Homo sapiens: one gene and its partner. The protein of the gene in region 1 purifies or fractionates together with the protein of each later gene. This does not show direct contact. Each region holds a gene or a part of one and is shown on either strand. Other genes may lie near its edges.

The links.
Region 2: the proteins of KRT85 (region 1) and PPP2R2B purify together in Homo sapiens (pull-down; one large-scale study listed by IntAct). This does not show direct contact.

The regions. Positions count from the first base shown.
Region 1 is NC_000012.12:52,358,489-52,362,986, forward strand, and holds the end of KRT85 (keratin, type II cuticular Hb5), read right to left. Parts: intron 4,492-4,498; coding exon 4,366-4,491; intron 3,984-4,365; coding exon 3,763-3,983; intron 3,011-3,762; coding exon 2,979-3,010; intron 2,559-2,978; coding exon 2,365-2,558; 3' UTR 1,518-2,364; downstream 1-1,517.
Region 2 is NC_000005.10:146,588,758-146,593,261, forward strand, and holds part of PPP2R2B (serine/threonine-protein phosphatase 2A 55 kDa regulatory subunit B beta isoform), read right to left. Parts: intron 4,306-4,504; coding exon 4,214-4,305; intron 1,470-4,213; coding exon 1,190-1,469; 3' UTR 1-1,189. UniProt on the Homo sapiens protein: The B regulatory subunit might modulate substrate selectivity and catalytic activity, and might also direct the localization of the catalytic enzyme to a particular subcellular compartment.

The DNA of each region.
Region 1 (4,498 bases):
TAAAAAATTCATTCCTATCTCCCAGGTTCTGGCTGTTTGACTTTTCAATCCATGGTGCCGTTATTTTTTGGGTATCAGATTTGGCATTTTTGTTTTGCTCAGCCCAGATCCATGGTAACATGAAGCTGTTTTCCCCAAGCATAGACTCTCTGTAGCATCTCAGAACCATAGGAGGCAGCAGACCTGGTAAGGACTCTACCCACTCATCTCATAGACCCCAGACTGACATGCAAAGCATGAAAGCCACTTCCTGCCCAAGGACTCACCGAGACCTGGCAGTCTTGGCAGAATTGGGGCTCAAATTTCCATTTCCTGATGTTTCAGCCCCTGGGATTTAACGTTTCCTGTGGGTGAATGATGTCCCCTAAATTGAAAGTTGGCCTATTGTGATTGTCACCATGCCCTCAGGGCCCAAACAGCTGGGAAAAAGGAGGCAGCAGGCAAGAGACCTGGAGGAGGCCCGCCAGGTGTCAGCCAGCAAACCTCAAACAGAGCAGCAGCCTAAGCACTCAGAAGCAGCCAGCAGCCTCCAGTGGGGCTACAGCCCTTTGGGCCTAAAGTGAGGATGCACAAGGCCCTATCTTCTCCTCTCAGAGAAAGAGGCTGCAGGATGGGGCAGCAGGGGGCTGGCAGACACCTGCTTGATGACGGTGACAGCTAATGGGGAGATGGAGCTGAGGGCAAGAGGACTGGATGTCTCTACCTCCTGCTGCACCAGCTGCCTGCATTCATCCAGCACATCCCAGGCCTGGCATATCTTGGAGCCCCATCCTGGGACTCAGTGGGAGGTCAGAGCCAGGAGGAGATACTTCCTGTCCTTATGGAATTTCCAGCTTGATCCAGACACACCCGTTGACATCCCTGGCCCAGATCCGCAGAGACAAAACCAGAGATTCTCAGGGTTCCAGACACTATATGATGGGGGCGGGGGAGGGCTGGGGGGTGTAGGGGTGAGGGTGGTAGCTTTGGGGAGCAGAGGAGGGCCCTGAGCAAAGGCAAATGGGAGGAGGGATGTGGGATGGCCTATGTGTCCACAAGGGGTATGTAGGAGAGAGTGTCTCTGGGCTGCCTCAGAGGGTAGACTTGTCTCCTTGGGGTGGAGTCCATGACTGGGAGGATGAGCACCGCATGGAGGGGTTGGACAGGGCTGAGGAGTAGCTGGGGAAGGAGGTGACAGAGGAAGCCTGCATTTGGCATAAGAAGCACACACATGTGCCAGGAAGTGACTTGAGCCAGGCAGGAGAGGGTGAGAGCAGTGAGTTTGGGATGGAGTTTTGGCTGCTGGGAGTACGCAGGGTGGGTCAGGGAGAAAGAGGTCATTAGTGGGGAGCTGGGCTGTAGTCCAGGCCTGAGGGGACTGAGGGCGACTGAGTGGAATCAGACTGTGGAAGTGGACAGGAAGCAGCAGAGTTTCTGGGGGGTGACTGGGGAAACACTGCATGGGGCTGGACTGGGATTGGTCATCTGGAGATGAGGCAAGAAGGGAGTGGAGAAGTTGCTCACAAGACCACACGCTCTTGCATTGCAGCGGCATTTATTGAAACACAGATCGAGACAACCCAGAAGGCAATGCACCCATAGACAGTCACAAGAAGGAGACCCAGGAAGTGGCTTAACTCTCTGTCCCGCCAGCTCTGCATTGGACAGTCCCCACCTGCACCCAGCAAGGGGGCATCTGGAGCAGCCATGGAGTCTTCTTTGAAATGTACAAAGGTTCACTGAATAGCAAGACCTGTCCAAAGTGCCCTAACCAGGGGCTGTAGGCAAAAGGATGCCCCACGATAATGGGCTTCTCAACTGCGAGGTCACATGAGGAGCCTGGCTGGAACAGGTTAGCCCAGAAGCAGGAAGGCAGTCTGAGAGAGAAGCAAAACATGAACAGGAATGAACAGGCAAGTGCTTGCTGGGGGACCATTCTTCCCAGCCAGGAGGAGGGGGCTGCTGGGGAGGGACTTTCTCCCTGATTCTCGGGTTGTGGGTGGCCTGGCTGGATGGTTAGGATGGCGCCTCCACCCAGAAGGTGGAGCTTCCGTGCTGACCACCACGCTGGGGGACTGGTCTTGTCCCTGAGAGCTGGGGGAATAATACAAATTGGATACAGGTATTTTGGAGCTAAGTAGGAGTTAAGTGAAGGGCTGGGAATGCCTCTGAAAACAGCTGCCAGGAGGACAACTAGGATGCATCTCCCTAGCATGAAAAGGCGCAGGGGAGCGGCCCGAGGGTCTTTCCCTCTGTAGGTCTTTCCCTCTGTAGGAACATCCAGAAGATTCTGGAAGCAAGCACACATTTTCCATTCACATGCCATTCAGTGCAGTGATGCAGGCAGGCAGGTGCTTGGCAGGAAGCCCTGGCTCCATGACTCTACTAGGCAAAGCGGACCGACCGGCTACTCCCGCAGCTGAAGCTGGAGGAACGAGGCTGGCAGGGGGCACAGGAGTCAGGGGCCACCACCGTGATGCTGCCGCCTATGGCTGAGGGGCCAGAAGTGATCTGGCGCCCTGGGGTGGTGCTGTAGGAGAGGCCCCCACAGGAGACTCCACCACGGGAGCTGCTGACACCTGTGGAGAGAGGAGACATGGAGGGGTGAGCAGCTCCCTGCAATCTCACCCACCCTACAACAGGCCCCAGGGCACTGCAGGAGCTGCCTCCCTCTCCAAGGAATTGGTGGTCAACAATGCAGGCCCTGTCCCTGAGATGCACAGCCCATCTAGGGAACTGGGGCAGGAAGGAAGTGAGGACCCCTGGACCCCGGGGAGCAAAGCTGCCAGGCCACAGGTCCATGGCCTATAGCTCACTGTCAACACTTGCGAAGAGCACTCAGCTCAGCTTTCTCTAACACCTGTCATGGCCCCCACTGAGGAGCCAGGGGAGGGTGAAACAGTTGGGGGAACACTCGAGGCTCCATGGGTTAGGCCAATGAGTTCAGCTTTTCTATCAAAAAAGCCATTTTTCCAGGAGAATTTCAGGCAGATACTCACAGACATTCACAGAGCCCACACCTTCACACAGCCTATGGAGAAAGAAAACTCTGTTAGTTCCAGACACTGAGTTGGATTCCTTGAGACTGATGGTTGCTTGGGGACAGAGAGGGTCATCCTGTGTACAGAGTCTACCCCTGAAAGGCAAGAAGGGCTCCCTCAAATCTGCATTAAATGCTTTCTTTCTTTGATGGTTTTAACCATGAAGACAAGGCTTTCTGATTTTCAGCAGCAGTGGGTAAGATTATGAACAGTGCCCCTAGTTTGAGTGATGGTGGCCAGCCTGGATGGTGCCAATCAAGCTCACAGGAAGGAGAGTTGAATCAGATACACCAGGGTGTGAAGGGGCTTTGTGGTTGATGAAGAGCTAAATGCATATAGAAGTGCATCATCATCATAACACACAGGCCTGTGTGGCAGCAGCTTCAGTAGGAAGCTATTCAACAAGGACGGATTTGGGAGGCATGAGACTTGGGTGCAGGTCCCAGCTCTTCTGCTTATTAACTGCGTAGCCATGATAAAGGCACTGAATTCTGAGCCTGCTTCTTTATCTAAAGATAAAAAGATGGGAAAAACCATATCTATCTTATTGGATTGTGAGGATTATAAAATAAACACTTAGCACAGGTCTAGCACAGAAGCATTCAGTTATTATTATTATTATTATTGAAGCTATTGTATTAGCCATGGCCAGAGTTGTAGCTCACACTCAGCTCAAGGAAATTCACTCCTGGAGGACCACAGCCTCCACCTCTGAAACCCCACAAAGTCCTCTTAGCCCCACCTGTGTTCCTCGCCCTCCAGCAGGCGCCTGTAGGTGGCGATCTCGATGTCCAGGCCCAGCTTGGAGTTCATCACCTCCTGGTACTCCTTGAGCAGGCAGGCCATGTCCTGCTTGGCCTTCTGCAGGGCGCCCTCCAGCTCAGCCAGCTTGCAGCGGGCATCGCTGAGGGCCGCCTCACCCTGCTGCTCTGCCTCAGCCACAGCAGCCTCCAGCTTGGCACGCTATCAGGTGGAGATACAAGGGCCAGGATGAGAAAGAGAAGCCACAGCTTGGCTCACCCAAGCTGATGGAGCCAGGGCAGGGAGAGGAGGGTCCTGGAGAGAAGGTTGGCCCGTGGCCAGGTAGTTAATGGGGCTGTGAATATGAGGGAGGAGATGGGTGGGCTTTTCATCATCTCTCCTTGATGGCGGTCACAGGGTGGCCAAGGAAGGGGCTGGATCCTCCTTTGGAAGTCAGTGACATGGTCTGATTGCTGTGAAATATGATAGAGCCCCTCCCTTCCCTCTGGGTCCCTGCTTCCTCATGGGCACACTGTGAAGCCTGATTAGGGCCAGGTGCTGCAGCCTGCCTGTGCTGCGTATTTGAATCCTCCACAGACCCCACCTGGCACTTGGCATTCTCAATCTCGGCCGTCAGCCTCTGGATCATGCGGTTCAGCTCGTTGATCTCCTCCTTGGTGCGGCGCAGGGTCTCCCCATGCCTGATCACCGTGGCCTTCATCTCCTCACACTGGAGG
Region 2 (4,504 bases), on another chromosome or scaffold:
CCCCACAGTTCATTTCTGTAGAAGAGAGCCTTCTGGTCTGTTTTTCCAGATGGCGAGCTTGGGGTGAGTTAGAAGTGCCTGATTGGACTTCACAACTCAGCGTTTTTATTGGCTATTTTTGTTCTAGGTACAATGGAGGTTGATGGATTGTTACTTTTGGTTACCAAAACCAGGAGGAGGGGAGGGTGCTGCTTAGGAGAAACACCCAAAAAGAACAGACCAGCCTTTCTCAGGGACTCAGGGGTGGTGGCACTGCTTCCAACTTACTGCTTCATTTAGAACACCAGATAATAAGCACCCAGGACTCGGCCTTTAGAAGTCAATGGAATAAATAAGCTGGAAAAGGTTGAAGAGAAAAAAGCCAAGGAACATGTAAGTAGAAGATTATATGGAGCCATTTAAGAGCACAAAAAGCAAGAGTAACAAGGCAGCAGATGGAATTTGGCCCCGCCTGGCCCTGCCAAGCTCACTCTGGGAAGCACTGTGTCGAAAGTGCTCTCTTTCTGTCCCCTGAAGCATTCAAGTTCCCTAGCCAAATTCTCAGGCTGTTTCTATGGAGCTTACAAAAAAAGAGCATAGCAGGGTTGATGTGCCCTTTCCTTGTCATTCTGCATCCTCTTCTCAGCTTCATGCAATAAATCTCTGGCTTAAATGAAATTGTTCAAAGGAAAATGGAAAATGGAAAAAAAAATGGTGGAGGGGCAGGAGATACTGACTAGTTCTGGTTTTTCACAAAACAAGAAGAATTTGTCTAAGAGTAAACGGTGTTTATTTTTTGTTGATTTTTTTCAATCAAATGGAATTGCTTAATTAAAAAAAACTTATCTCTTTTCTCCTTAAATACTACAGACAACCTCATTTTATCGCAGCAGACACCTAGGAACAAAACACTGGACCCACCAGAGAAAACTGGGCAATAAAAGCATCAGAAGTTCAAGTCAACTATGGAAGAATTACTGTTAGCTGGCAGCTTTCAATTCTAAACAGAAGTGTCCCAAACCTATTGGGTTTGACAAAAGTTTCTTAGAACTGGGGAGCTGGGAATGTTGGACTCCTTTTAATTCTATTCCAATCATTTCCTGTATAGGGAAATTAAAGTCAATGCATCAAATGAAGACCCAAAGAAACATTTAAAAACTTGTTTGACTAGTATTCAGTATGTGAGATTATTAAGTAATAACTTGTCCACCTAGTTAACCTTGTCCTGGAATATATATAGGTTATTTGTAGCCGCCACTGCTATAATATTTTCTGAAGGATGCCAAGCTGTATGCAAGATCTTTTTGCTAAAGTCCAGACTGTCGACACTGATCTCGTCTTTTCTCCGCTTGCCCCCCACACACACTTTTCGGGGTTTGAGGATAGCCCGGGGCTTGCTGTTTTCCCTCGAAGCCTCAAGGGTCACATCACGCTTGGTGTTTCTGTCGAACATCCTGAAGAAGTTGTTGTAGGAGCCTGTCATGATGACACTGCAAGGCAGAGAGCAAAGGCAATGACATATCTTCACTGTCTTTTCTTTTTGGAGCAAATGATACCATGTTATGGCCAGCTTATGACACCATAGGTTTTATTAAAAACAAAAACCAAAAAATGAGAACAGGCTCTGCAGTGTGATTATTGGCTTTTTGTTTTTTTTTTGTGTTTTTTTTTTTTTTTTTTGAATCACTGAAAGCAATAGGATTTTTGGCTGGGTTTGGAAATGAGGGATGGTGAGAACTCTCCTTGTAATTTGCTTTTGCTCAATAGATTCTTTTTGCTTCTTTGGCTCAGAAAAGGTGTCCACTGGTTTTAATGATCCCAGTCCTACCTACCTCCCATCAGGAATGTGAGACTAGAATGAGGTTTGTCGAAGTAGACACACTTTTGAAAACAATAAGCAGTTGTACGTGTTTAAGGTTTGGCCACTGTCAACAGGGTTCCTGGGCCGTCTGGCCTCTAAGGCTTCATGGCATCAGTGCAGTGAGGGGAGAGATGCTAGTGGCATCGTGCACGAACCCGGGGCGCGACCTCTCCCCTGCCGAGAACTAGCTCTGAATTCGGCCTTTTTAGAAAACTTATCTACGAAATGGATGTCATCATGGTCTTATCTAGGAAACAAGTAAGGAAATTCAAATTTTAAAAGAATCTGGGATGGAGAAATAAAAAGATTTTATATGGTTTTTTTCCCACACTTAATGGACAGATGGTTTCCACATTTTTATAAGTTATCCCCTCTTAGGCATAGCTGCAATCGATCAGGAGAGTGGCAAACACCCAATGTCTTCCAGAGGCAAGGTACTGAATGTTTAATGGTGACATTTCAGACACGGTGACAAGCTGAGGTGGGGAGGGAGAGATTCCTTGGGCCAGGGCAAGTACCCCAAGTGCCATCACACGGTGGTTCCCCTGGAGTGGGGGGCTCCTACTCATTTCTGGGTGGAGCTCTGACTGGCTCCTTAAGATGGGAGAGCAGGAACTCTCGTGTATTTCTCAAATGATTTGGGATGTGTAGAGAGGTGAAGGAAAAAGCTGACAAGATTGGGCCACAGCAAGGGGGATGTGTTTTTGGGCACGTTGTCACCTGTACCAGGTAAATTAAGCAAAGGTTAGATTTTGTTACTCTGGCTCATCAAACTGATACTGTGAACTGTGTCTGTGTACTCGAGTGGACTGTTATCACCTTGTCAGGCAGGGCGCTGAGGGCTTTGCCTCCATGATCTCGTTTCAACTTCTATTATCCCCTAAAAGGGTTTTACAGAGAAGTAATTTGCTCAGTGTCACATTGCTAATTGGTGGTAAAGTCCACCCTCAAACCCACATATGGTTGACTCTGGGGCATAAGTATTCAGCCGGTTGGCCTCACTGCTTCCCATACTTTGACGTTTGCTTGCCCACCATGACCCGACTTATTTTTAAACAAGTAAGAGATTATTTTCCAAAAAAAAAAAAAAAAAGACTACCAACCTTATCTGAAAGAGAAATTAAACTTCCCAGTTGTGATGTTATAGAAAGAGTGTTGATCTTAGGATTCAAACTCTAAACTTGTTACTTTTGTCTCTACTACTTACTACTTTATGAGGTTGGGCAGATTACTTTATCTTGCTAAGCCTCAGTTTCCTTAACTGTAAAATGAGAACGATGGAAGCAATCTTGTTAGACTGTGGTTGGGATTAAATAAAATGATGTGTACGAATGTGTTTGGTATATAGTAGGTGCCTAATAAGTGTAATTTTTGAATCAAGGCTAAGATAGAGGAAAAACTTGAGCAATAATAACAGATATGTAAATAATAATATATGAATAAATAAATACCTATAAATAAATAATAAAATGAGAGGGCTGGCTTCTTTTTCCCATGGTGGATTTTGTTCTTATGTCACAGTTGCTTTGCTCTCTGTCCTATACCAACTGGTCAGTGTGACTTGGGTCCTTTGCCACGTGGAGACTCCTTCCAAGCCTGCTAAGGAGGGGATTCATTTTGGATCAGTGGCAAAGAAAGCCAAGAAACAGGTGGAGTGTGAGAGAGAGACAGTTCATATTCACTGAAAGCTTGAATCTCTGAATGTCTTGCCATAACAGAATTTCTATGCTTTCAAACACTATTATTGGTGCCACCTTCATCAAGGAACGAAATCAGCCCCTGGTAGCTTGCACTTAGTTCTCATGGAAATCAGAGAATCATTTGTATTTGTCAAACTAAAAATGAACTATTGGGAGGTATTATGAAGCACTGTTCAAATCAAAGGCCTTAAAATAGTAATAAATCACTTTGAGGGAATGTGATAAATGAGGTTGACTAGAATTCAGTTAATGAACTACCAGGGCCGTTGGCCAGGTCTCCACTAGCAGCTTCAAGGGATAATTTTTGATCTGGAAAGCCTACTTGGCATTAATCTGAACTGTTCAGGCTGGAATTTGCTGGTGGATAAGTGATCTTCATTTAGGCATGTTGACCTAGTGCTGGAGGTGTCTTGTGTGAAAAAGATAGGACTTTCTTATTAACATTAAGGTGTTATCTGTGCCAGTTCAGAAACAGGATTCAAAGGCCTTACTACATCCTTCTCTTCTTTCCAGCCTTGACTTCAAGGGTCACTAGGGGCCCACATTATGCATTTCAGCCAGGTTTTGGGGCCCAATTTTGACCTCCCTTTGGCTGTACTCTACTTAGGATAAATTCCCTGAGCCTCTTCAAGACAATCTTTGGAAGGTTCTTCAGCCACAGAGCCTTTCTTACCTGTCTGACCCATTCCACACACACTCAAATTTATCAAAAATGCAGTCATTTTCATAGAGGGAACACAGCTTGCTGCGGAGGTAGTCATGAACCTGGAGAGGAAACATATCGAGAAGGTCAGTTATTATTTTAAACAGTAATTATTTCTGCAAACACCTCCTCTTCTGATGTGAGCTGTTAAATCTTTCATTGTACATGCTCTTTGAATCAGATGGCCTTGGATCTGAACCTAGGCTTGGCCCTTTTAGCTGTAGGACATTAGGATGGGTTGATGAGCTTCTCATGTAGATG